Linked DNA regions of Homo sapiens. The protein of the gene in region 1 purifies or fractionates together with the protein of each later gene. This does not show direct contact. Each region holds a gene or a part of one and is shown on either strand. Other genes may lie near its edges.

Region 1 (8,963 bases):
CTTCCAGTTAGACTCCTGAGTCTTCACTCAGGCCTCCAAGACCCTGTGCATTCCAGTTCCCCCTCCCTGCCCCCTGGCTTTGTCTCCTTCACTAACTCTCTGACCAAGTGTCCTCCAGCCACCCTGGCCTTGCTGTTCCCACTCCCAGCTCTGTGGGAGGCTGCGTCCTTATCATCTGCTTCTCCAGGCTGCGTCACACCACTCTGCGGGTCAAGGCATCCCTCACCGCCCTCCCCTGTCCTGTTATCCTGTGTCATTTTCTTTGAGGCCAGGGTGTGCCTGCCTTGGGGCCTTCCTAATCGCTCTCCCTCTCGTGGGAATGTCCTTCCTCAGATAACTTGAATGGCCCCTTGCCTCCTTCAGGTCTGATTTGGAATCTGCCTTTCAGCCCCTCCCTGGCCCCTTTTCCCATTTTCACCTGCTCCTTGCCCTGCTTCCCAAACTCCGTATCTTCTCTCCTGGCTTTGTCTTCTCTCCTTAACACCTGTCACCATCTCATATGCCATGTTGTATTTAGTTAGTTCGGTGAATACTTACACCTTCTGGGCAGGGATCCTTGTTTTGTATCCCCAGCGCCTAGAGCAGGGTCTGGCACACAGTAGGTGCTGGCACAGTGCATGTTTGTTGAACAAGTGCTGGTTTTACTGTTACTGTTTGTGTTTATTCTCTTTTGCTGCCCTTTGGGTCAGTCACCTCCATGAGAGGGCAGCGACTGCATGTGCATGGTCACTGCTCTTTACTCATGTTGAGTTCTTGTGCAGTGATAGGACAGCCCAGTTCCTTTCAAGGCTCCTAGGGTTAAAGGCAGTGAGGTCCTGCAGAAGAGCCTAGCACTGACTTCTGTCCCCATCTCTCATCTAGGAAGGAGATGACAAAATTGAGTACCGAGCCTGGAACCCCTTCCGCTCCAAGCTAGCAGCAGCAATCCTGGGTGGTGTGGACCAGATCCACATCAAACCGGGGGCTAAGGTTCTCTACCTCGGGGCTGCCTCGGGCACCACGGTCTCCCATGTCTCTGACATCGTTGGTCCGGTGAGTGAGTAGATGGAGAGTCAGGCAGGAGGTAAAGGCTGCCTCCCTTCTGCCAACCTGGAATATCAGGGTTTGACTGCTTGCCTGCGCTGTGTGACTTAGGGCCAGGCCCTTTTCTGTCACTGTGCCTGTGAGTAAAAGGAGTGGCTTGAACCAGATAATGTCATTCAACCTCACTCCTGGGTTCTTGGCCTCAAGGGAAGAGACGTGGGTGTGGGGTGACCAACCTTAGAGAGACAACGGGGAGTATAGATACCAGACTATTTGATTTGATGGGCCTCTTTAAAATTTTATGCTGCTAAAACCTGCTCTTCTGGTTTCTTTAGAAAGAACCAGGAGATCTTCATGGTTTCTGAGCCTGTATAGGCTTCCCATTTAGAGGGCCCCTGGCACCCACGTGTCCCACTCTGTTACCCTTTGTTACTTTATGTGTTTATAAGCTGTTAAGTGTAGTGCCTTAAAACCTCAGGCTTTGGCCAGACGAGGTGGCTCATGCCTTTAATCTCAACACTTTCGGAGGCCGAGGCAGGTGGATCACCTGAGGTCAGGAGTTCGAGACCAGCCTGACCAATATGGTAAAACCCCATCTCTACTAAAAATACAAAAATTAGCTGGGTGTGGTGACGTGTGCCTGTAGTCCCACCTACTTGGGAGGCTGAGACAGGAGAATTGCTTGAACCCAGGAGGCGGACGTTGCACTAAGCTGAGATCGCACAACTGCACTCCATCCTGGGCAACAGAGTGAGACTCAAAAAAAAAAAAAAAAAAAACCTCAGGCTTTAATCAGGCAAGTTACCTAACCCATCCAAGCCTCAGTTTACCTGTCTGGAACATAGACTTGTGAAGATTAAATGAGTTAATTTCTGAAAGGTGCTTAGAGCAGTGGTTGGCCCATTGTTACATCATCTCTGTGCCTTGGCTTCCTGGTTTTAAGCCTCTGTTGGGAACCTGGGCTCTCAGGCAGATGGGATTGGGTACTTTTGCTACTTGCTGAATAACTCTTGGCCAGTGACTTTATGTCTGGACCTCAGTTTATTCATGTGAAAAATGGACATGATAGCAATAGTCATTAGATGGTAGGGTTTTGATTTGGGGGTTGGAAGAGATGCTGTGTATAGTGTATGGGCCTAAAGTAGGCACTCCATGCATGAGAACTAGCATCACTGTTCATTAATTTTTAATTTATTTTAGGATGGTCTAGTCTATGCAGTCGAGTTCTCCCACCGCTCTGGCCGTGACCTCATTAACTTGGCCAAGAAGAGGACCAACATCATTCCTGTGATCGAGGATGCTCGACACCCACACAAATACCGCATGCTCATCGGTGAGGGGTCTGGGGGTGGCCCCGGTGGGGTAGGACAGGCCACCGCAGGCTTCTGGAAGAAGCCAGTGGATCTCTGATTCGGATGGAGTTGGAGTGGATGAGCAGACCTCTTGAGTCTGCAGGAATAGAAAGGGGTAAGGGGAGCTAGGTGAGGTTGTGGAGGTGGCAGCTTGGCTTCAGAGTCTTGGAAGCCACCCTTGGAGGGCCAACCTCTTCTCCTTCAGTCTCCTCCCCATCTCCTAGGTCTCCTGTACTTCCTGCCTCTTGTATTTATTACACTACCCCTCCATAAAAAGCCTCCTTTTGGGGGTCCTAATCATTGTCTGGTGAGAGCATATCCCAGAAAACTAAGCATGGCTTGATCTGGAGGGGCCCACTGTGAATATTAATTACTTTGTTTAAAAAAACATTCAAAGATATAATATAAAAGTTGAAAAGCCTTATAAACCACCGCCAGAAGTAACTGATGAGAACAATTTGATGTCTGCTTTTCCCAGGTTTTAAATAATCAGTTTTCATTATACCACCTTTTCATTTTTTGAAAAGTCACACTGGCTTAAAAACATTATTTTTCATTCTGCTCCTTTTTCTTTCTGTGTTTTATTTTTCCCATGCACTCATACCATCCCCTTTGTTCTGCAACTTGTTTTCATTTCACAGTCCTGCGGACACTCTTGCCTATAAGTGCTCACTCACTCTTACTTGTCTTTTTGATGACGTGTCTGTCTCCCCACCAGACCTGGGAGCGTCTCGAGGGCAGGGTCCGGGTCTGACTCGTCTCTATGTCCCCCACGCCCGGCCCAGGGCTGGCCACAGAGTAGGTGGCAACCATGGTTTACAAGAAGAGTGGATGAATGATGTGACTGTGGGTTTTGGACTCATCTTGGGACACTGGAGGGAGGGGGACCAGTGGAGGTGGGGAGTGAAACTGGAGGCAGGGAGAATCTCCCAGGAACCTGCTGGTGATGGGCATAGGCCCCATGGGAGGATCTGGGGTGATCCCTGTGACTCCAACTTTTAACTGCTGCTCCTTTCTCCTTAGCAATGGTGGATGTGATCTTTGCTGATGTGGCCCAGCCAGACCAGACCCGGATTGTGGCCCTGAATGCCCACACCTTCCTGCGTAATGGAGGACACTTTGTGATTTCCATTAAGGTGCGGGGTTTGGAAGAGTCTAAGATGGGGTGGCAGTGTTCTAGGGAGGTATCTTCTCTATCTGTATCTGTCAAATAGCCACCCAAAACAGAGGGGCCAAGTCTGCAAAACTATAGCTTTGGATTTAAAGAGGCAGGAGAGTGCAGCGGTCAAGTGCAAAATTGAGTCTGACCATCTGAGTTTAATCCCAGCCTGCTGTGTGACTGAGCAAGTTACTTAACCTATATGCCTCAGTTTCCTCACTTATGAAATAGAAATATTGTCTAGTCTTTTTCAGGGTAGATGACAGGATCAAATTAGTCAATATAATATGAAGTGTTTAGAAAAGATCCTGGCATAGAATAGATACTAGATAAAAGCTAGGTGCATCTTTCACAGCATTTTTATTTGGAAATAATGGAGAACTCTCCCATGCACCCTTCACAAGGTTCACCATTTGTTAGCCTTTTGCTACATTTGTTTTATTATTCTCAACTGCATTATTACTATTATTAAAGAAGAGGAAGTAGAAATAAGCCAAACAATTCCTGGGTATAAAATTTAAGCACTGGCTTTTAGATAAATAGGACTGTTTAAGGCTTCCTGCTTCAAATCCAAAACAAAACTAAAAACTTTTTTTTTTTTTAATTTGAGACAGAGTCTCGCTCTGTCACCAAGGCTGGCGTGAAGTGGTGCAATCTCAGCTCACTGCAACCTCTGCCTCCCAGGTTCAAGCAATTCTTCTGCCTCAGCCTCCTAAGTAGCTGGGACTACAGGCGTGTGCCACCACACCTGGCTAACTTTTATATTTTTAGTGGAGACGGGGTTTTGCCATGTTGCTCAGGCTGCTCTGGAGCTCCTGAGCTCAGGCAATCTGCCTGTCTCAGGCTCCCAAAGTGCTAGGATTACAGGCACGAGCCACTGCACCCAGCCAAAAACTTTCATTAAGCCTTTTATCACATTTCCTAAACCCGAGTGTCTTAGCCCATTTTATGCAGCTATCACAGAATGCTATAGACTGGGTAATTTATTTATTTTTATTTTTATTTTTATTTTTTTGAGATGGAGTCTTACTCTGTCACCAGGTTGGAGTGCAGTGGTACGATCTCGGCTCACTGCAACCTCCAGTTCCTGGGTTCAAGCGATTCTCCTGCGTCAGCTTCCCGAGTAGGTGGGACTACAGGTGTGCGCCACCACACCCGACTAATTTTTGTATTTTTAGTAGAGATAGGGTTTCACCGTGTTGGCCAGGATGGTCTCAATCTCCTGATTTCGTGATTGAGCCACCTCGGCCTCCCAAAGTGCTGGGATTACAGGCGTGAGCCACCACGCCCAGCCTTAGACTGGGTAATTTATAATGAATGGAAATTTATTTGGCTCCCAGTTCCAAAGGCTGGAAAGTCCAAGATTGGAGGTCTGAATCTGGCGAGGGCCTTCTTGCTGTCATCCATTGGCAGAAGGGTGAGAGCAAGATAGAAAGGGGGCATAATCATCCTTTTAATCAGCAACCCACTCTTGTGATAATAGCATTACTCTATTCAGGAAGGCAGAGGCCTCATGACCTGAATCATCTCTCGAAGGTCCCACCTCTCAACTCTTGCATTTAAGGGTTACGTTTCCAACACATGAACTTTGGGGGACACACTAGAACCATAGCACTGAGTTTTACTTGAATTAATAATGAAAACATCTGGTTTAAAGAGCACACAAGAGAAAAACAGCCCAAAGCCCTGTTGTAGACATTAGTCCTTTCTCCTCTTTAGGCCAACTGCATTGACTCCACAGCCTCAGCCGAGGCCGTGTTTGCCTCCGAAGTGAAAAAGATGCAACAGGAGAACATGAAGCCGCAGGAGCAGTTGACCCTTGAGCCATATGAAAGAGACCATGCCGTGGTCGTGGGAGTGTACAGGTGAGCAGGGGCCCAGCAATACACCAAGACAGACATCTCTGTCCCTTGCACCCCGAGTGCCATGATCCTGGGGACCCTCCTTCATCACCTATCTTCCTCTCACAGGCCACCCCCCAAGGTGAAGAACTGAAGTTCAGCGCTGTCAGGATTGCGAGAGATGTGTGTTGATACTGTTGCACGTGTGTTTTTCTATTAAAAGACTCATCCGTCTCCCATGTCTGCTGCTCATTCCTCCCCTTGACCTGCTGACACAGGGAGCACGCACCCTTGGTCAATTTTGCGGGGTTGGGTAAATTCTCACTCGGTCACAGAGCGCATGCTCCGTTTCTAGCTGCCTTTGCGCAGCGGCAGCCTGGATTTCGGTTCTTGGGTGGGATTGGTAGCTCGCTGCGCATGCGTGCAGGTAAGCGGCCATCTCGCGCAGGCGGAGTGTCAGTGTGGGTCACGTGAGGGGAGCGGAGAGGGAGGGATGGGGGCGGAGTCCAGGGCGTGGGGGGGCCGGTTTGTTGTGGTCGCCATTTTGCTGGTTGCATTACTGGGTAATCGGGGCCCTGGCTTGCCGCGTCCGCCGGATACCCTCAGCCAGTGGGCAGGTCTGAGCTCGGGCTCCCCGAGCAGTTTGAGTCCCCTTGCCCGCTCCTTCAGGTAACGGCGCGGGGACGGGTGGGGCGGCAAGCGGTCGCAGGGAGGTGGGCAGGACGGGATCCGCCCTGCTCCCGTCGCCGTGAGACTTAGCACGAGGCCAAGGGAGGAGAGGAGGGGGGTGGCAGGCAGGTGCGGGCCCTGCCTGGCTATTCATAGTTGAATTCCTGGAACCGGCCAAGCCCGAGGAAGCAGTTGCAGGAGGGAGGCTGGGAGGGGGTAGCCGGGCCCCACTCCCGCCCTTTGTTTGGGCTCAGCTCCGCGGGCCGCTTCTTCGTCGCCTAGCAACAGCTGCCCTAGGCTGTGATTGGCTGAGCTCTTGGCACCAGCGACCAATGGTACAGTTGTTGCCATGGCAGGTGCCGATTGCCAAGCTCAGTCGGGCCCCGCCTTCCGGTCTCAGCAGGCCCAGGAGGGCCTCCTGGGTGGGGGGCGGGACGCCGGGTCCCTAGGGGCTGGTGGTCACTCAGGGTGGGGCGTGTCGCCCCTCCCCCGTCCACCTGCTCTACTCTTCCCCCGCGTGCCCTGGGCTGACCCTTGTCCCCTCCTCTCCCCGCCCCCGGTGGCAGTGGCGGCTGCTGTTGTCACCCACCGGGCCTCCTGTCCCGCTTGCCCTCCCCGCCGCGGGGCCGGCCGGGCCAGAGACAGGCGGTCGCCTTTTCAGCGCCGCCACCGCCGCCATGCTGGCCGCTCGCCCACCCCACTGGGGGCCCCACCGCGCCCCAGCCCCCCGTGGGCCCCGCGCCAGCCCTGACCCGGGTAGGGGGTGGGGGCTGGGAGAGATGATCCTGGTGTGGGAGGGCCCCGGAGAAGAGGTGGTTTTTTGGGGGAAGCTCCAAGGGTGGAGGAGTCGTGGAGTGGCAAGGCATGGAATAGGAGAAAGGGATTTGACATGGGGGAGAGAGTGGCCCATGGGGAGAAGATTTTTGCTGTAGCTGACAACTCTGGGAGGAGAGAACCCTATGTGATAACTTGGGGATTTGACTTTGAGGCCCTCTAGGAGTGGACACAGTTGTGGAATGACCCTGGTATAAAGAGGGGTGCCTGGAGAAAGGTCTGTGGTAGGAATATTAGGGTGTGTGTGTGTGTGTAGGGGGGCAAGGAAGCAGTGTAGGGGAGAAAAGGATGATCACTCTAAACTGTGGGAAGAGACACCTCCTCCTTCTCCCATCAGGAGGAGTGGGCCTTGATTGGGATGGGATATTGGAGTAATATGGGGAAGAACCCTGTTGTGGTAGGGGGAATTGGGATATGGTACAGGGAGACTACCTGGAAGGCTGGTTCCTAATATGGAGGACCTGAAATAGGGAAGCGGTCTTGGCATGATATGGAGAGGGTCCCCTAGGAAAATCGTGCCCTGGTGGATGAGAATGCTGTAGAGATAGGACTCTGTTCTATAGAGGTTCTCAGATAACTTTGGTGTGGTTGGGAGGTCCCCAAGGACGCTGATGTGGTTTTAGGGCTGCAGAGGACTCTGCTGTGGTTTGGGAGGGGAAGACTCATGTGGTTTGGGAATCCTAGAGTTCTCTGGGTTGAGGGAATCTACTGAGAAGGATAGATCTTAAAGTATTGGCCCTGGCTGTGCTACGGGCTGAGATCCTGATGTTCAGGGAAGACTACAGAAAGTGGCATCTTGTGTTAGGGGCCCTGGGGAGGGCCACGAGTAGTGAGAAAAGAATGAAGCCTACTCCTCTGCATACTGTCTGTGGTTTCTTTTTTCTTTTCCTCCTCTGAATTATTGGTGTCTTCCTGTCCTCCTTTCCCTGTGATGGCTCATATCGACCCCTGCTTGGCCCCCAATCATTGTCTTTTATGTGTTCTCTTTGTGCTGCCTTAATCATTTACTTGATCATTATTTGTCGAGGGACTGCTGTGCCATCCCCCCCCACCTGGCTACCACTTCTCTGCCCCTTCTCTTCATTGCTATCTGCTGCTCCGTTGTGCCCTTTTCCTCTTCTCTCTGTGCCCTGTCTTTCTCATGTCCACTCTTCCCCGCCTGGCACTATTCACATATCCCCTTGTTCCATGTTGTTTTCCCACTTCCTGTCTGCTCTCAGGTCTCAGCGGCGGTGGCAGCCGAGGTGCAGGATGCAAGAAGGCGCCCCCCGGCCGGGCTCCCGCTCCAGGCCTCGCTCCCCTGCGGCCCTCTGAGCCCACCATGGCCGTCCCACCGGGCCATGGTCCCTTCTCTGGCTTCCCAGGGCCCCAGGAGCACACGCAGGTACGCGTTCAGCTGGCTCCTCACCTGCGTGGTGGTAGGGGGAGGCTGGGGATAGAAAGGTCTCCAGACCAAAAGGTAGTGTGGTTGCCCAAGACATTCTTCTGGGCACATAATGGGTCCCATGGGATTGGAAAATAACAGAGGAGTTTTCAGGCAGAGTCAGGGTTTGGAGAGGCTGGGTTCAAATCCTGACCCAGTGGTTAAATTCCTTAGGTTCTCCATACTTGAGTTGGAGAACTCAACTCATTCTGTGAAATGGGGCCAATAATGATACCTACTTCACAGGGTTGTTGTGAGGATTAAATGAGTTAATGGTATGCATGTAAAACACTTAGAATGGTGCCTGGCACATAGTAAATACCCAATAAATGCTACTAAGAAAAGTTCAGAGTGAAAGATCTGGATTGGGTGAATTTGGAGGGGGGTTGAGTCTAAAGGGTCTTGAGGCCAACAGGCATGGGTGGTGAGGGCAAAGCTCTCCCAAGGCTAGAGGCAGTGAAGGCAGTGACATGCAGAGCTTGAAGCAGGATGAAGTGGGAGGTCCAGGGGCCAGATCCAGATCCAAGAGCCTTGGGGTGAAAGAACTGTGCAAAGAGTTGGTGGGAGTATGGGTTGAGGCCCAAGGGATGAGGGTAAATTGAGATAGAGGTACTTCAGAGGGTACCCAAAATGGCTGGCTTCAAAGTGAAGAATGGGGAGGA
Region 2 (7,730 bases), on another chromosome or scaffold:
ATTCCCAGAAATAGTCTCTAGACTGAAAAAGCCCACAGAGTAACCAGCACAGTGAACAGAAAACAAACAATGAAACACCTCACAACAAGGCAATCCTCATTTCAGAATGGTGGTAACCCTTCCACAGAGGACAGACACCATCACCAACAAAGGATTAAGAATCAGAATGGCATCCAAATTCTCAACAGCAATTCCAAAAGCTAGAAGATGAAGTGCTTTCAATACCCAGTGGAAAAATTATTTCCAACCTACAATTCTAATTCTATACCCAGTCAAACCGGCAAGTATAAAGACATCACTGAAGATATTCAAGGTCTGGGTATAACATATACCTCCCATGTATCCTCTCTCAAAAAATTATTGGAAAATGCACTCCAGCAAAACAACATCCAGAAATTAGAGTATCCAAAACAGGAGAGAAGTGAAGAGAATTCCCAGGGAAGTTCCCGGTTCTAATAGCTGTGCCACAGATGTAGAGATCAATGAGCTAATTTGGAATATGAGGATGAGGGACTCCAAAAGACATATCTCCAAGGAAAATAAACAAAAGTAACTCTCTGCTATGTTTTTAATTATTTACAGGAAGTTTCCATTATCAAAACTTTCTTAGGGATAAATTTGTGATAGGTACATAGAAAACGAAGCAATCAAAATGAAAAACAATTTTAACCTCAAAGACCACAAAAAGTTATTTAAAAAGAAAATATAACTGTAGTATCCAACAAGGCTCTACTGTAATCAATATTTACATGGTCATAATAACATTAATACTGATTTAACCAAAAGATGCTACACCTACAATGGAAGGATTCGGTAGGATGGTGATTAGAGAATTAAGTGTACATTTTCCACAGTAGCAAGTCACTACATAATACATAAAACTGAAAAAAAAAAAAAAAAAAAACAAAAAAAAAACAGCTCCTAAAGCAGTAGTATAGCATATTATTTAGAAATGTGTAGGCCAGGCACGGTGGCTCACGCCTGTAATTCCAGCATTTTGGGAGGCCAAGGCGGGTGGATCACTTGAGGCCAGGAGTTCGAGACCAGCCTGGCCAACACGGGGAAACCCTGCCTCTACTAAAAATACAAAAATTAGCAGGGAATGGTGCTACACACCTACAATCCCAGCTACTCAGGAGGCTGAGGCATAAGAATTGCTTGAACCCAAGAGGCAGAGGTTGCAGTGAGCTGAGATCCTGACATTGCACTCCAGCCTGGGTGACAGAGCGAGACTCTGTCTCAAAAAAAAGAAAGAAAGAAAAAGAAATGTGTAGGTAAACAGCCAAAGAAACCTCTAAGAGTTGAAAGTGGTTGTTTCTAGGGGGCAGGAAGAGGGAGTGGAGAAAGATGTGACAAGGGAACATTTTATTTGATAATAAGTTCAGTGCTATTTGACATTTTAAATTATGCACACGTAGTTTAAAAAAATAAATTTAAATTTAAAAATATAGTATAAAGACAAGCATGCTATTTTTGCCTTCAAGTAGTTTGGAAAAGGAAGTAGCTTACTTTCTCAACTTCCTTCCCTTCTACTGCTGATTTACCTATCATCTTAACCTACGCCCTTACCTCTTCCCCTCCTCAGAGAAAAAAATGTCCTTGTTTCTGAGATTTCCAGACTCTACCATGTACTGGATCCCATGCCTCTCGCATTTTCCATAACCTTGCTCCATCTACATTTACCATCTTCTCTTGAATTTACAATCTTTCATTCTATAAATCCTTTCCCTAAAAGCTATAAACAAGCTGAAGTTTTCCACATCCTGTAAATAACTGAAGCTTAAGCACACCCTTCACCCAGTTTTTTCACTTTCCTTCCGTCCACATTAAAGTACTTTATACTCATTACCTCTACTTCCTCATCCTCCACTTTGATTTGTGCCCCCAACATGCTTCTCAAACTACTTTCTCTCACAGATCATTGACTAATCTACATGCCAGATTCAAAGGCCTATTCTCCAGGCTCAGCCTACTTCACGACATTTGAAAATCTTTCCTATCTCTCCTTGAAATACAATCTTTCTTTTCGGCTTTCTCAACACTATTCTACCATTTCTCCTCCTACCACATTTCACAGGTTTCTTCACTGGCTTTTCTTTCTACCCTTAAAAATGCTTGTTTCCTCCCAGAGTTCTATCTTCAGCATTTTCCCTATCATTTTATCCACCCTAGTGATTAGTCATTTCGAGTGTTGCCCACATGTAAATGCCTAGCATGATGTACATGTTAAATGAATGTTTACTGAACTGCAATAAATGAGTCCTAATTTTTACCCCCAAGTTCAAAGTGTATCCCTGAGTTTTAAAATGTTATTTGCCACAATCTAGAAAATTATCTGAAGTTCCTGAGAGCACAAACCAAATACATCCACAACTGAGTTCATTTTCTTTTCCCAAATCTGTTCTCCTCACTGTTATCAATTAGAACCACCATCCAAACTATCACCCTCAACTCCCCGTTTCTCAATCCCTACATCCAACAGTTTGCCAAATCAGTCTTTTCAATCTTTTTTACTCTTGCCATTCCCACTGCCATTCCCCCAAAATTCAGGTGATCAATGCCTTTGTGAGTTTCTCCTATCTCAAGTCACACTCTACTCATTTTATATATATATATATATATATTCTATTTATTCTAAGAATATAAATACTAGTAATAATAACTGTGAGTGCCTAAAGCCTTGGATGAGAAGGAAGACAATGATGTGAAAATATCTGGCTGGGCGTGGTGGCTCACGCTTGCAATCCCAGCACTTTGGGAGGCCGAGGCGGACAGATCACGAGGTCAGGAGTTCAGGACCAGCCTGTCCAATATGGTGAAATCCCGTCTCTACTAAAAAAAAAAAAAAAAAGTACAAAAATCAGCCGGGCATGGTGGCACACGGCTGTAGTCCAGCTACTCAGGAGGCTGAGGCAGGAGAATGGCTTGAACCTGGGAGGCGGAGGTTGCAGTAAGCCGAGATCACACCACTGCACTCCAGCCTGGGCGACAGAGTAAGACTCCGATAAAAAAAAAAAAAAAGAAAATATCTGCCAGGCGCGGTGGCTCATGCCTGTAATCTCAGCACTTTGGGAGGCCGAGGCGGATGGACCGCCTGAGGTCAGGAGTTCGAGACCAGCCTGGCCAACATAGTGAAACCCTGTCTCTACTAAAAATACAAAAGTTAGCTGGGCGTGGTGGCAGGCGCCTGTAATCCCAGCTACTCAGGAGGTTGAGGCAGGAGAATCGCTTGAACCCAGGAGGCGGAGGTTACAATGAGCCAAGATCTGCCATTGCACTCCAGTCTGGGCAACAAGAGTGAAACTCCATCTCAAAAAAAAAAAAAAAGAAAATAAAATATCTAATATTGAGATTCCTATACCCCACACACAGATTACAAAGATTTTATTCCTTGAAACAATTATCTACGGTAAGTATCATTAGTATCCCCTTTTTACAAGTAAAGTGAACTTGCCTAAAGTTAAACTGCTAGCAAGTAAATGGCAACTCCAGGGTCTGAACCCTGACAGTCTGGCTCCAGAGTACATACTATTAACCATGGAATACTTTCTAATGTATATATTCTATTCAAAGTCATTCTGAAAACTTACGTCTCTCCCTTCTTTCTCTACTATTTCCGCTCTCCCCATCCCAACACCCTATTACCCTACATTTCAAGCCACAAAGAACTGAATATGATAGGCTTATTTTCACACCTCTAAGATCCAACTGCAAAGTTCTGTTCTTCCCTTTGTAATCCAATTCAAAATTCATCTCCTCTGAGGGAACCTCTATACCCATCCCCTGTGGAATTATTCACTCTCTAAGCCAGAAAACTCATCACATTATATGCTTATGTATCTGTCTTACATGGCTAGTTTGTGAGTCTCTGGAATTCCTTGTGTGTTTTACATCTTTGTATTACACTGTTAATAACACAGAGTAGTTCAATCAAAGCTTACAGAATTTAACTTAATTAAATGTAAATTCTACTAGCCAAGACATAAAACTAATAGTTTCTACTTTGTCTCATCTTCATTGCAAAATATAGACATCACAAACCAAAAGAATTCCCTTTAGCCGGGTGTGGGTGACTCGTGCCTCTAATCCCAGCACTTTGGGGGGCTGAGGCAGGCAGATAGCTTGAGCTCAGGAGTTGGAGAGCACCCTGGGCAACATGGTGAAACCCAGTCTCTACCCAAAATACAGAAAATTAGCTGGGCATAGTGGCATGTACCTGTAGTCCCAGCTACTCGGGAAGCTAAGGCGGGAGAATTACCCGAACCCCGGAGGCAGAGGTTGCAGTGAGCCGAGATCGTGCCACTACACTCCAGCCTGGGTGACAGAGACCCAGTCTCCAAAAAAAAAAAGAATTCCCTTGAATGTGTAATGTTAGCAGCAATCCTCCAAATGTTAGAGAAACACTAAATTCTTAGAGACATATTTCATAAGGTACTAGAAAGTAGACATCAAAGATGACACAAATATAAGTTCTGGTTATCTTGCTTCTTGATTCTGCCTATTAGTCCAAAGAAGTTATCACTTTTTGCTGCCCTTGGCACTCCCCAACTCCAATAAACAAACGAATTTATACACAACTTAATACATCCAAAGGAAGGGGGAAACTAGCAAGAACACGACTTGCCATATATATATATATATATATATATATATATATATATATATATATATATTTTGTGGTGGTGGTGGTGGTTGTTGTGACGGAGTTTTGCTCTTGTTGCTCAGGCTGGAGTGCAGTGGCACAATCTCGGCTCACTGCAACCTCCACCTTCTGGGTTCAAGTGATTCTCCTGCCTCTGCCTCCCCGGTAGCTGGGATTATAGGCGCCTGCCACCACACCTGTCTAATTTTTTGTATTTTTAGTAGAGACAGGGTTTCGCCATGTTGGGCAGGCTGGTCTCGAACTCCTGACCTCAGGTCATCCACCCACCTTGGCCTCCCAAAATGCTGGGATTACAGGTATAAGCCACCGTGCCCGACCAAATTTTTTTTATTATACCACACACCCTAAGTAATTCTGATACAGATGAACCACAGACTACACTTTGAGAAACACCATTCTGGATGTTCACAGGCAATGTTATCACCAATTTGAAACTTCATACAACCATGAAAACTGAACCTACACTGGTAATTTATGTTAAATACACTAAAACTAGAAGCAAAACTAATATGATACACAACAGCTAACTTTTATACTGAGGTACTGTGCTGTTTTTCAGTTTTCCCTTATTTAATCCCTACTATCATATGAAGTAGATTTCACCACCCATTTCACAGATAAGAAAAATAACTTTCCATATCACATGGCTTCTAGTTGGCAGAACACAGGTATTAAACTCAAACTGTCTACCCAAAGTATATCCTCCTCACCTCGATGTTATACCATCTCTCCATTTGTAATCTATTTGACATTTTAATAAGTAAAATGAAGTTGGGTAAAAGGAGAGAAGGCACAAAAATAAACTTTCTGGTTAACACTGTTGCCTAGGTACCTTTTCTAAACATACCTCAGTTCCTAATGACAAACGGCTTTGCTATGGAGATGACAGTCACTGAAGGTGGGAAGTTTAAAATATCTGTCAGGGATGGGTGCTTGGATTACTTTATAGTAGTCAAGAGTAGGAAGTTCTACACCAGCCAATTAGCTCTAACCCTAGAAGAATAAAGCAACTGGATAGGGATCTTGATACCTTCAACTTAGGGACTCTGAGATACCGGATCCCTAACAAAGGTTACAGCATCCAGTTCATCTGATAAGACACCTAGAAGTCAACAGCCTGATCTAGATGGACCCTGAAATTTGAGTCCTATGAGGTTTATAGAATTATATGGGGTAGACCCTTACCCTTTACGGTAGGGATTTTTACATTCATCACAGCTGCAAACTGGTGGTAGCCTCCCTTTAATGAAAAAGGGACTCTGACGTTTACAAAGACTTTCCTTCCAGATTTAGTCAGATAAAAACAGCAAATGATTTCATCGTAGTTTTGTGTGTGTTATGAACACCTGAAATCTGAAAACACTTTGTTCTACTCTGCATGGATATTTACTAGAGTGAAACAACAATTCCTGGGAATGAAACTATGAGACATTCAAACTAGAGTATGACTTAATAACAGACAATATTTCTCACACCCAAGTGAAAGTGCTGCACTAGAAAAATAAGAGTTTTTATTTTTCTAGTTGGCGGAACACAGGTATTAAACCTGACCTCAGGTGATCCACCGCCTCGGCCTCCCAAAGTGCTGGGATTACCCCTGTGAGCCACCGCGCCTGGCCAAATTATTTTTTATTATACCACACACCCTAATTCTGATACAGATAAACCACAGACTACACTTTGAGAAATAAGAGTTTTTATTTTTCTGGATTTATTTATTTATTTATTTATTTTGATAGGGGAGCAAATGGGGATAATTTTACAGCAAATACTCTACGGGATGATCTAGGGAAGGGGAGCGTTCAAAAACCATGAAGAGAGGACATGGGAGTAGCCTGACATCCCAGGAAATAGAGCCCTCCTAGAGATCAGAGAAAAAGAGTACCTTCCTCCACACCTTGCCAATACTTAATTCAACCCAGTTCTCCTCAGGGTGTTTCTCTGAGTGTCAAACAGTTGTTAAGAGAGCCAGATTCTGTTATCAGACTACAGGCTGTGCCTCCTTCTGCCACCTCTACTGCCCACTTATAAGCCAGCTCCTTCCCTTCCACCTGATGCACTATGCTGGCTCCAGAAGGCTGAAGGACTGAAGCAGTTTTGTTCATATCTGTAAGAGTTACTTAACTAGTGGCTGGGCGCGGTAGCTCATGCCTGTAATCCCAGCACTTTGGGGAGGCCGAGGTCGGCAGGTCACCTGAGGTTGGGAGCTTGAGACCAGCCTGACGAATGTGGAGAAACCCTGTATCTACTAAAAACACAAAATTAGCCAGGCGTGGTAGCGCATGCCTGTAATCCCAGCTACTCGGGAGGCTGAGGCAGGAGCATCGCTTGAACCCGGGAGGCAGAGGTTGCAGTGAGCCAAGATTGCCCCATTGCACTCCAGCCTAGGTGACAGAGTGAGACTCCATCTTAAAAAAAAAAAAAAAAAAAAAGTTACCTAACTAAGTACATGTAATTTTGGTGTGCTATATATTTCCCACATTCTATCTTACACATCATGATGTCACTTCCTTGATATAATATAAAGACATGGTCTTTGGAGTACAACTGACCAAAGTTCAAATAAATACCAACTCTGCCACTTGTTACTTAACCTCTCTAAAAGCTATAGTGAGGGTTAAATGAGATTTTGCATAAAAACCACCTGCCAAATAGTAAGAGTTCAGTAGGTGACAGAGGTTATGAAGCAGGGAGGGGAAATCTAGTACTTTTATCACAGTTTTAGAAAAGCATTCTGCATTCTCAAAAGGTTTAAAATAGTGCTCTGGGCTGGGCAATCCTAGCACTTTGGGAGGCCAAGGCGGGCAGATCACATAAGGTCAGGAGTTCCAAACCATCCTGGCAAACATGGTGAAACCCCATCTCTACTAAAATACAAAAATTAGCCGGGCATGATGGCGGGTGCCTGTAATCCCAGCTACTCGGGAGGCTGAGATAGGAGAATCGCTTGAACCCAGGAGACCATGGTTGCAGTGAGCCGAGATCACATAACTGCACTCCAGCCTGGGCAGCTGAGCAAGACTCCGTCTCAAAAAATAAATAAAAATATAAATAAAAATAAATACAT
Region 3 (7,730 bases), on another chromosome or scaffold:
CCAAACTCCCAACTGCTTCTCACAGCCTTTGCTTTATACATCCTCAGCCAATCCCTCAGTGAGCCCCAACCTCCCTATGGTCTCTCAGGCCCAATTAGAGGCAAATAAACACTTCCTGGCAGGAGTGGAAGACAAGCAAACTATTAAATGCTAAACACCCCTTCTTCCCTCTCAAGCAGGTCAAAAAGGCTGGGCCTGGATCTTGTAAGAATTGGTTTCCTGCAGTCACCTTCCCAACAGCAGTGCTGGGGTGAGCTCACCCATGTCTGCTGGGGACTGAATGCCACTTCTGTTGCAGGTCTGCCTCAGTAGATGCTGGGGACCAATATAGGGCCTTCCTACCTAGTCTATGACTTAGAAGGGCAGAGGGTGAGGGGAAAAGGGTCCCATCAGCAGAGGAGAGAGAGAGAGAGCCCCTCAACCCTGCTTCAGTTGCCCATGTGCTGTGTGCAACTCTACTCAAGAGGGCAAAAGAGGCAGGTGGAATATAGCCTGGACAATCTGATGAGAAAAAAAGGCCAGCTCAGAAAAAATATGGTGACACCCCCCACCTGCATTCCCCAATATACTAGATCGAGCTAGTGGGGAGGGGGTGGGGCTGAAGAAAAGATCATTAGCTGAAGTCACAGCACTTAAAACACCCTGCTGTACCCCAAAATGAAATCCTTTGCAGAGTCGGTGATGCTATGGATTACAAGCCTGGTTCCAGAGCTATTTAGAAAAAAGGAAAACTTGGTGCCCTCCTCTTGACTCCTTGAGCAAACCCAACATCCTGTAAAAAACTCAAGATCCTGGGGGTATCATGATACTCTGCTGTTAAGGAGCAATTGCCTTCCTTCCCTAAGGCTACGCAAACACACCTTTCCACAAGTACACTCCCATGCACGCACACACTCTCACGCAGTTTCTCTGAGGAGGCTGACTCAACCCCCCACCCTGGCCAAATTCTAAGACACAAGTGCCCTTTGAAGCAAAGGGGCTAGTGAAATTCCCCGAGCTGGGGTCGGCAGACCCCTTCCTTCCCTGCCCATTGCTCTCTTGGTGGCAGGGATACTCACACTCAGGGCCGCCATAGGAAGGGTCTGCTCTGGGGCTGTCCCTCCCGCCACCAGCTCCGTTTATCTTGTCCCGGCCAGTCTCTTGGCATGGTCGAGCTTGCTGGAGCGAGAAGATTTCCAGCTGCCCTGAGTCGGAGCCCTCCACTCACCCCCATTCCCAGGCTCGGCCCCCAGCCTTGGGGACTCGACACTTGTTAGTAGCCATGAGAGAGTCAGTCTGTGTGGCCCCAGGAAGTAGCCTCTCAGTTTTAGTTTTCCTCAATCAAATTCAAGTCCAGGTCCCCAAAGTCCCGCTGGCACAGTGTCCGCTTGCTCAGCGCCTGCCGACCCCACCGCACAGCCCCCTCCTCCTCCTCTTCGCTTTCACTCAGCACCTGGGAGGAACCCCCAGTGGGGCTGCAGGAAGCAGAGAGGGGTGGGGGGCTACAGGCCATGAACCATGGTGGAGAGATGCTGCTGCCTTCCCGGGCTGTTTCTTGGAGACAAAGACCTCCTGAGTATGGTTTCTGTCAAACAAACAAAGAAGACAGTTACACCTGAAGGCAAGAATTCTTTAGGGTGAGGTTTGTAAACTTTTTTTTTTTGAGACGGAGTCTCACTCTGTCACCCTGGCTGGAGTGCAGTGGCGTGATCTTGGCTCACTGCAAGCTCTGCCTCCCGGGTTCACGCCATTCTCCTGCCTCAGCCTCCCCAGTAGCTGGGACTACAGGTGCCCGGCCCACGCCCGGCTAATTTTTTATATTTTTAGTAGAGACGAGGTTTCACCGTGTTAGCCAGGATGGTCTCAATCTCCTGACCTCATGATCCGCCTGCCTTGGCCTCCCAAAGTGCTGGGATTACAGGCGTTAGCCACCATGCCTGGCGTTTGTAAACTTTCTGACAAAATTTGGAGCCCATTGTTTCCATTGAATTGAAGAATAGAAGCTCCGTGAGGGCAGGAACATCATCTGCAGTGTTTCATTACTTTGTACTGCCAGTGCCTAGTCAGAGTCAGTAAATGTTTGCAGATGGGATGGACGACTGTATGAAAAAATTAATTAATTCTTAAAGAGGTTTGTAACCTAGTGGTCTAGAAAGAATAATATGAAAAAAGTGAGCAAAGTGCATACATACAATAATTGTACTCACACCAGGAAGTCAAAAAACATTTGTCTAACAGATGAATACACTGTAGCAGCCCATCTTGCTTCAGCCCTCACAGACCCACTTTGAAGCAGTGACAGGCAAGTGGCAAAAACAGCTTTGGGCACAAGGAGTAGGTACTGATGGAATTTTTTGCAGCTTGTGCATTCTTGGAAAGGAGGGAAAGTACCTCTTGCAGGACAATTTGGGATCTCTGTTGGAAGGTTTAACATGGGTCTCACCCCAGTTTCTCTAACTCCCAGGATTAAGGCATTTCACAGGATGGGGGGACTTTCAGTGCTAACACTGGGACAGTCCCAGGCAAACTGGGATGGTAGGTCACCCTAGCTAAGAGCTAAAGGAGGTGCTGTTGGTGGTGGGGGCGGCAGGGTAATGAAGCTAGGGGCTAGCTCAAAAGTGGAAACAGAACAGTCCCCACACTCCCATCTAAGCTCCCCTAGTCTTGCTGGTCCCACCTGATTCATCTTGTCAAAGTCCAACGAAGGCCGCAGACGCCGGGGGTCTTCCTCGTGGCGCCGCTTGACCCCAGTTTTGCGGGCATCCAGATCACAAGGCTGTGAGCGGCTTCGGGGAAGGTTGCGGAGACCTCGAGGTCGCCAGGGCAGCTCTGGGGAGGATGCGGGAGAGCTCCGGGCAGAGGGCAAGAAGCGGCTTGCCTGCGGGCCCAGACTGGGTGACAGGGAGAAGCGGCGCTGAGGTGGGCAAGGTGACAAGGACTCAGCATCACTCTCCCAGGAGCCACTTTGAGGGGAGGCGGCGCAGGGTCGAGAGGAATCTTGGGCCAGGGCCAGGCTGAAGAAAGGAGGGCTGTAGGGTCTGTGAGCTGGGGCACATTGAGAAGAGGCACTGGGAGCTTGGAGGAACCTGAGGCTGGAGACCCGCTTTGGGGGGCTCTGGTGAGGCACCTGCGGCCCACCCCCTCCACCACTGCCCCGGTGCTTTATGGGAGTCCACAGCTTGGAGGGGGCGGGCCGCCACACCGGCTGCCAGCGAGACAGGTCCACGGGCACTGAGAGTGAGCGGCAGTGCCTCTTGGATGGAGGGGCAGGGGGCACAGGAAGCTTCTCTGGATCTGGGGGCTCAGGTCTTAGGACTTGGGAGAAGGGCTGCTCCTTGGGGGAGTTTCCCCGACTGGGTGGTCTGAGGTGCAGGCTCAGGCCTGAGGGATGGTAGCTGAAGTTGAGGCTGTCCTGGAACTCAGCACAGGAACAGTGGGGCAGGCCCCTCCAGGAAGCACCTTCTGGAAGGCATTTATAATAAGAATAATATTAATGATAGCTTACATTTTTTAAGAACTTACCATTTGCCACATAATGTATGGAGCATTTTATGTGAAAATTTCCAAAAACCTTATGAGGTAGGTAGTATCGTTATCATTATCCCCATTTCACAGATAAGAGAAATTCAATAACTTTCCCAAAATCACATAGCACTCAAAAGACCAAAGGAGGATTCAAATCCAGGTCTGTCTGATGCGAAGGCTAGGTTTTTAAACCACTATGCTCTATTGCCTCCATTGTGACCAACTACCTGGAATCAAAAACATTTCATCTACTGCCTGCCACTCCCTCTCAAAGGTAAAAGAAGTCAAGAGAAACAAACACGTTTGTGAGTGTCCTGCTCATCTCTCCCTCGCCCCTCCCCCACGCTTGCCCTGGATGCTGAAAAGCAGGCCTATGCTCTTCTTTCTCGGCCTTTCCTCCTCTCATGTGTCAACAGCACCAAGTCAGGAGTTAGGACTGCCAAGAAGTAAGAGGTAATCAGGCAGGTAAGAGATCACTTTTATTCCTAGGGAGGGCAAACAGGGTGGGGAAGGCCTTTGACAGTGAAACCTGGGCTTGGGAAACCCTGACTTTGTGCTGCTCATCTTCGTTTCTGTCTGGCCACCCACATATTCCGATTCCCTTCCCCTAGGCCTTCTCTTAAATCCAAACAGATGGAGGGACCAAGAGAAGGAAGGGAAAATGGACTAAAAGAAACAATCCTCACTCACTGTATTCCAACCAAAATTGTGACTTTTGGGAGACGGCTCATTAAGGGACAAAGGGCCTAATCCAAACTCCTCTGGCTAGCTGGCTGGAATTCTGCAGGGGCTGGATATTTGGGGCAAACGACAAGTATACGAAGTCAGACTTGATGGTGGCAAAATTCATACTGAGTGTATTTGGTCTATAGTTCTTCCCTCTACTAACCACTATGAGGGCAGGGACCATGAGTTCCTGCTCTATACTTATGACACAATACCTGGCTTTCAGCAAGTCTTTAATAAACAGGAGGAAGAGACTGAATGAACATGTTTTTGCCAACTCACTTCCCTTGCTAGGTATCCCAGAAAAGAAAATGAGATGCAGAACTGCTGAGCAGCACGAGTTAGGGAGTTCTGATTGTCCACCAGTGATGCCTCCATCTAAATGTCCCTACGATCAGGGGCCCTTTAACTCAGTAATTAATAATCTACGAATTTATACCTCAGATATATTTTCACATGTGAAAAAATGACATATGTACAAGGTTATTCACTACAGTTTCTTTTTTCTTTCTTTTTTTTTTTTTTGAGATGGAATCTCGCTCTGTTGCCCAAGCTGGAGTGCAGTGGGTGCGATCTCGGCTCACTGCAACCTCCGCCTCCTGGATTCCAGGGATTCTCCTGCCTCAGCCTCCTGAGTAGCTGGGATTACAGGCGCCTGCCACCATGCCCAGCTAATTTTTGTATTTTTAATAGAGACGGGGTTTCACCATGCTGGCCAGGCTGGTCTCGAACTCCTGGCTTCATGCTATCTGCCCACCTCGGCCTCCCAAAGTGCTGGGATTACAGGCATGAGTCACCACGTCTGGCCCACTACAGTTTTATGTATCCAAACAAGATTAGAAATAACCTAAATGCACATCAATAGAAAACTCATTAAATAAGCCACTGTACATCTATGCAGTGTAATAATATGTAGCTATATATAACAAGGGAATGAATACTCAGCATTCTGATAGGGAAAGATCTCCTAGCTATATTAAAGTTTTTTTTGTTTTTTGTTTTTTTTTTTTTTGAGATGGAGTCTTGCTTTGTTGTGCAGGCTGGAGTGCAGTGGCATGATCTGGGCTCACCACAACCTCCACCTCCTGGGTTCAAGTGATTCTCCTGCCTTGCCCTCCCGAGTAGCTGGGATTACAGGTGTGTACCACCATGCCAGGCTAATTTTTGTATTTTTAGTAGAGACAGGGTTTCACTGTGTTGGCCAGGCTGGTCTCGAACTCCTGACCTCATGATCCGCCCACCTCGGCCTCCCAAAGTGCTAGGATTACAGGCATGAGCCACTGTGCCCAGCAATTTTTTTTTTTTTTTGAGACAGAGTTTTGCTCTTGTTGCCCAGGCTAGAGTGCAATGGCGCAATCTTGGCTCACCGCAACCTCTACCTCCTGGGTTCAAGTGATTCTCCTGCCTCAGCCTCCCGAGTAGCTGGGATTACAGGCATGCGCCACGACGCCTGGCTAATTTTATATTTTTAGTAGAGATGGGGTTTCTCCATGTTGGTCAGGCTGGTCTTGAACTCCCGACCTCAGGTGATCTGCCCACCTTGGCCTCCCAAAGTGCTGGGATTATAGGTGTGACCCACTAGGCCCGGTCCCATTTTTTTTTTTAAAGGTACAAAATAATATATAGTATGCAACCTTTTGTGTTAAAAACGTGGAAATAAAATAGATGCAGCTAACCACCATGGCACATGTACACCTATGTAACGAACCTGCACGTTCTGCACATGTATCCGAGAACTTAAAAAAGAAAGGAAATAAATATATACATTTGCTTCTTTTTATATAAAGAAATTCTAGTCACATATACTGTATAAGAAACTAATACTTTTAGGGAGGTGGTAGAAGCTGGGTAGATAGGGAACGGGAGAGTAAGAGAGACTTTTCTCAGCATAACCTTTTTGTTGTTATTTTTTAAATTTTGAACCATGTGAATGTATTACCTATTCAAAAAATTAGATTATACAAGTCCCCACAAAGCTAGAATAAGAGCAAACCAACCAGATAACTTTCATGCTAGAACATGAAAGACAACTGTCAATCTCAGAAGTTGACCCTGGCAAGAAGGTTCTAGAGGTAGGCTCGCTAGCCCTGGTCACTGGAAACCAATGATAGAAATGTGTGGAGAGAGGAATGGGTACACACACGTACACAAACACACACGATGCCTTACCAGACACAAGCTGGAAAGAGTTCCCACAGTTGGAGATGTCTGCATGATCAGGCAAAGGCTAAGAAAGAGAGAATATCCATCATGATTTGGATTCAGGACACACTGACAGATTTCTAGGAAGCCCTCTTCAGTTCTCCTCTGCGATTCATGAGCTACAGGGATGTTAGGGACATTAAGTGTTCTTCCTCTTGTCTTCCCAAAGTTAGTAAGTCAAACAATCCACATCTTCCAACATCTCAAACCCTTCTCCACCCAAGTTTTGCTGTCCCTTCTCTATCGGTGGAAAAATCCCTGCCCCCTTCCTTTTGGGCTGGGTTTTGAGCCATTAGTGGGCTCTTCCAGGTTAAGTACCATGATTCATACAGCACAGGACAAGAGTAAAGTAATAGCAACAATCAGCCTCAGAAAAAAGGGGGAGGGGGTCGTGGAGAAGCAGGAAGACTGGTCTTTTACCAGACTGATGCTGAAGCGTGTGCATTTCAGCTCATCCAGAGTCTGCTTCTGTAGCTGCTCAGTGATCAGGGTTATCATGATTCTCCCCAGGATTTGACTTGCACACTTTGGAGCAAATGATGGATGTCTTCCCTGTTGTTCTTCCAGACCTCACTTGTGAGCCGTCTTCTGCCACTGCAGCACCATTCTAGCACCATTGGGACTTCCCTCTCCAGTCATGCCTGCTGAGTCTGCCAATTAGAGGGACCAGCCCCAAGTGATATTAGAGATGCACCTGGTCCAGAGATGGAAAATGCATGGCACACATACCACAGCACCCCTAAGCCAGGCCTCTGGCAGACATCAATTGATCACAGCTCTTTCCAGCTAAGCCTAAACACAGCTTCAGAAATTATGAACTTGGCAGTCCAGATATGAAATAAAATAGAGTTGGCAATCAAGTTGAAACTTATTTGCTACCCTTAAACTGGTTCATGCTCTGTTGTTTCTAACTGGAATACCAGCACCACTTAGAAAACAGCTGCTCAAGTGAGAGAGAGGGATGCCCAAATGATTATTTCCATCAAGATCAGCCCAGTATTTTATCTTCCAGTCAGAAGTGAAAAGAGGTACCCTTCTCCTAAACTACAGAAATAGTAATAAGAGAACAAGGAAGAACAGTGGTTGTAGGCAAGACTTTCTGCTTTAGACCTGAGTACATAGGATTTTATGTCCTCCCACAGCCTAAACATCTGATATATTATTGTTTTCCAATAGATACAGTGTTTGTTTTCTTATCAAATGGGAAGATAAAGAAATGGTCAGGGTAATTCCAATACATTTCAACTCTACAGACGTCGTAAACAACAACTCCATGACTGTTCAACTAAGTTTTTAGC

What was found.
Region 2: the proteins of DYRK1B (region 1) and FAM117B purify together in Homo sapiens (affinity purification with mass spectrometry; 4 studies listed by BioGRID and IntAct, with this or other methods). This does not show direct contact.
Region 3: the proteins of DYRK1B (region 1) and FAM53C purify together in Homo sapiens (affinity purification with mass spectrometry; 5 studies listed by BioGRID and IntAct, with this or other methods). This does not show direct contact.

The regions. Positions count from the first base shown.
Region 1 is NC_000019.10:39,831,104-39,840,066, reverse strand, and holds the start of DYRK1B (dual specificity tyrosine-phosphorylation-regulated kinase 1B), read left to right. Parts: upstream 1-5,904; 5' UTR 5,905-6,044; intron 6,045-6,418; exon of another isoform or gene 6,419-6,721; coding exon of another isoform or gene 6,722-6,800; intron 6,801-6,887; exon of another isoform or gene 6,888-7,095; intron 7,096-8,098; coding exon of another isoform or gene 8,099-8,199; coding exon 8,200-8,262; intron 8,263-8,963. Other genes in the region: FBL (rRNA 2'-O-methyltransferase fibrillarin), read left to right, coding at 862-1,032, 2,224-2,356, 3,399-3,511, 5,254-5,399, 5,505-5,529.
Region 2 is NC_000002.12:202,637,239-202,644,968, reverse strand, and holds part of FAM117B (protein FAM117B), read right to left. Parts: intron 1-7,730.
Region 3 is NC_000005.10:138,340,536-138,348,265, reverse strand, and holds part of FAM53C (protein FAM53C), read right to left. Parts: intron 7,083-7,730; 5' UTR 7,050-7,082; coding exon of another isoform or gene 7,002-7,049; 5' UTR 6,931-7,001; coding exon 6,853-6,930; intron 6,458-6,852; coding exon 6,400-6,457; intron 3,442-6,399; coding exon 2,657-3,441; intron 1,565-2,656; coding exon 1,307-1,564; 3' UTR 1-1,306.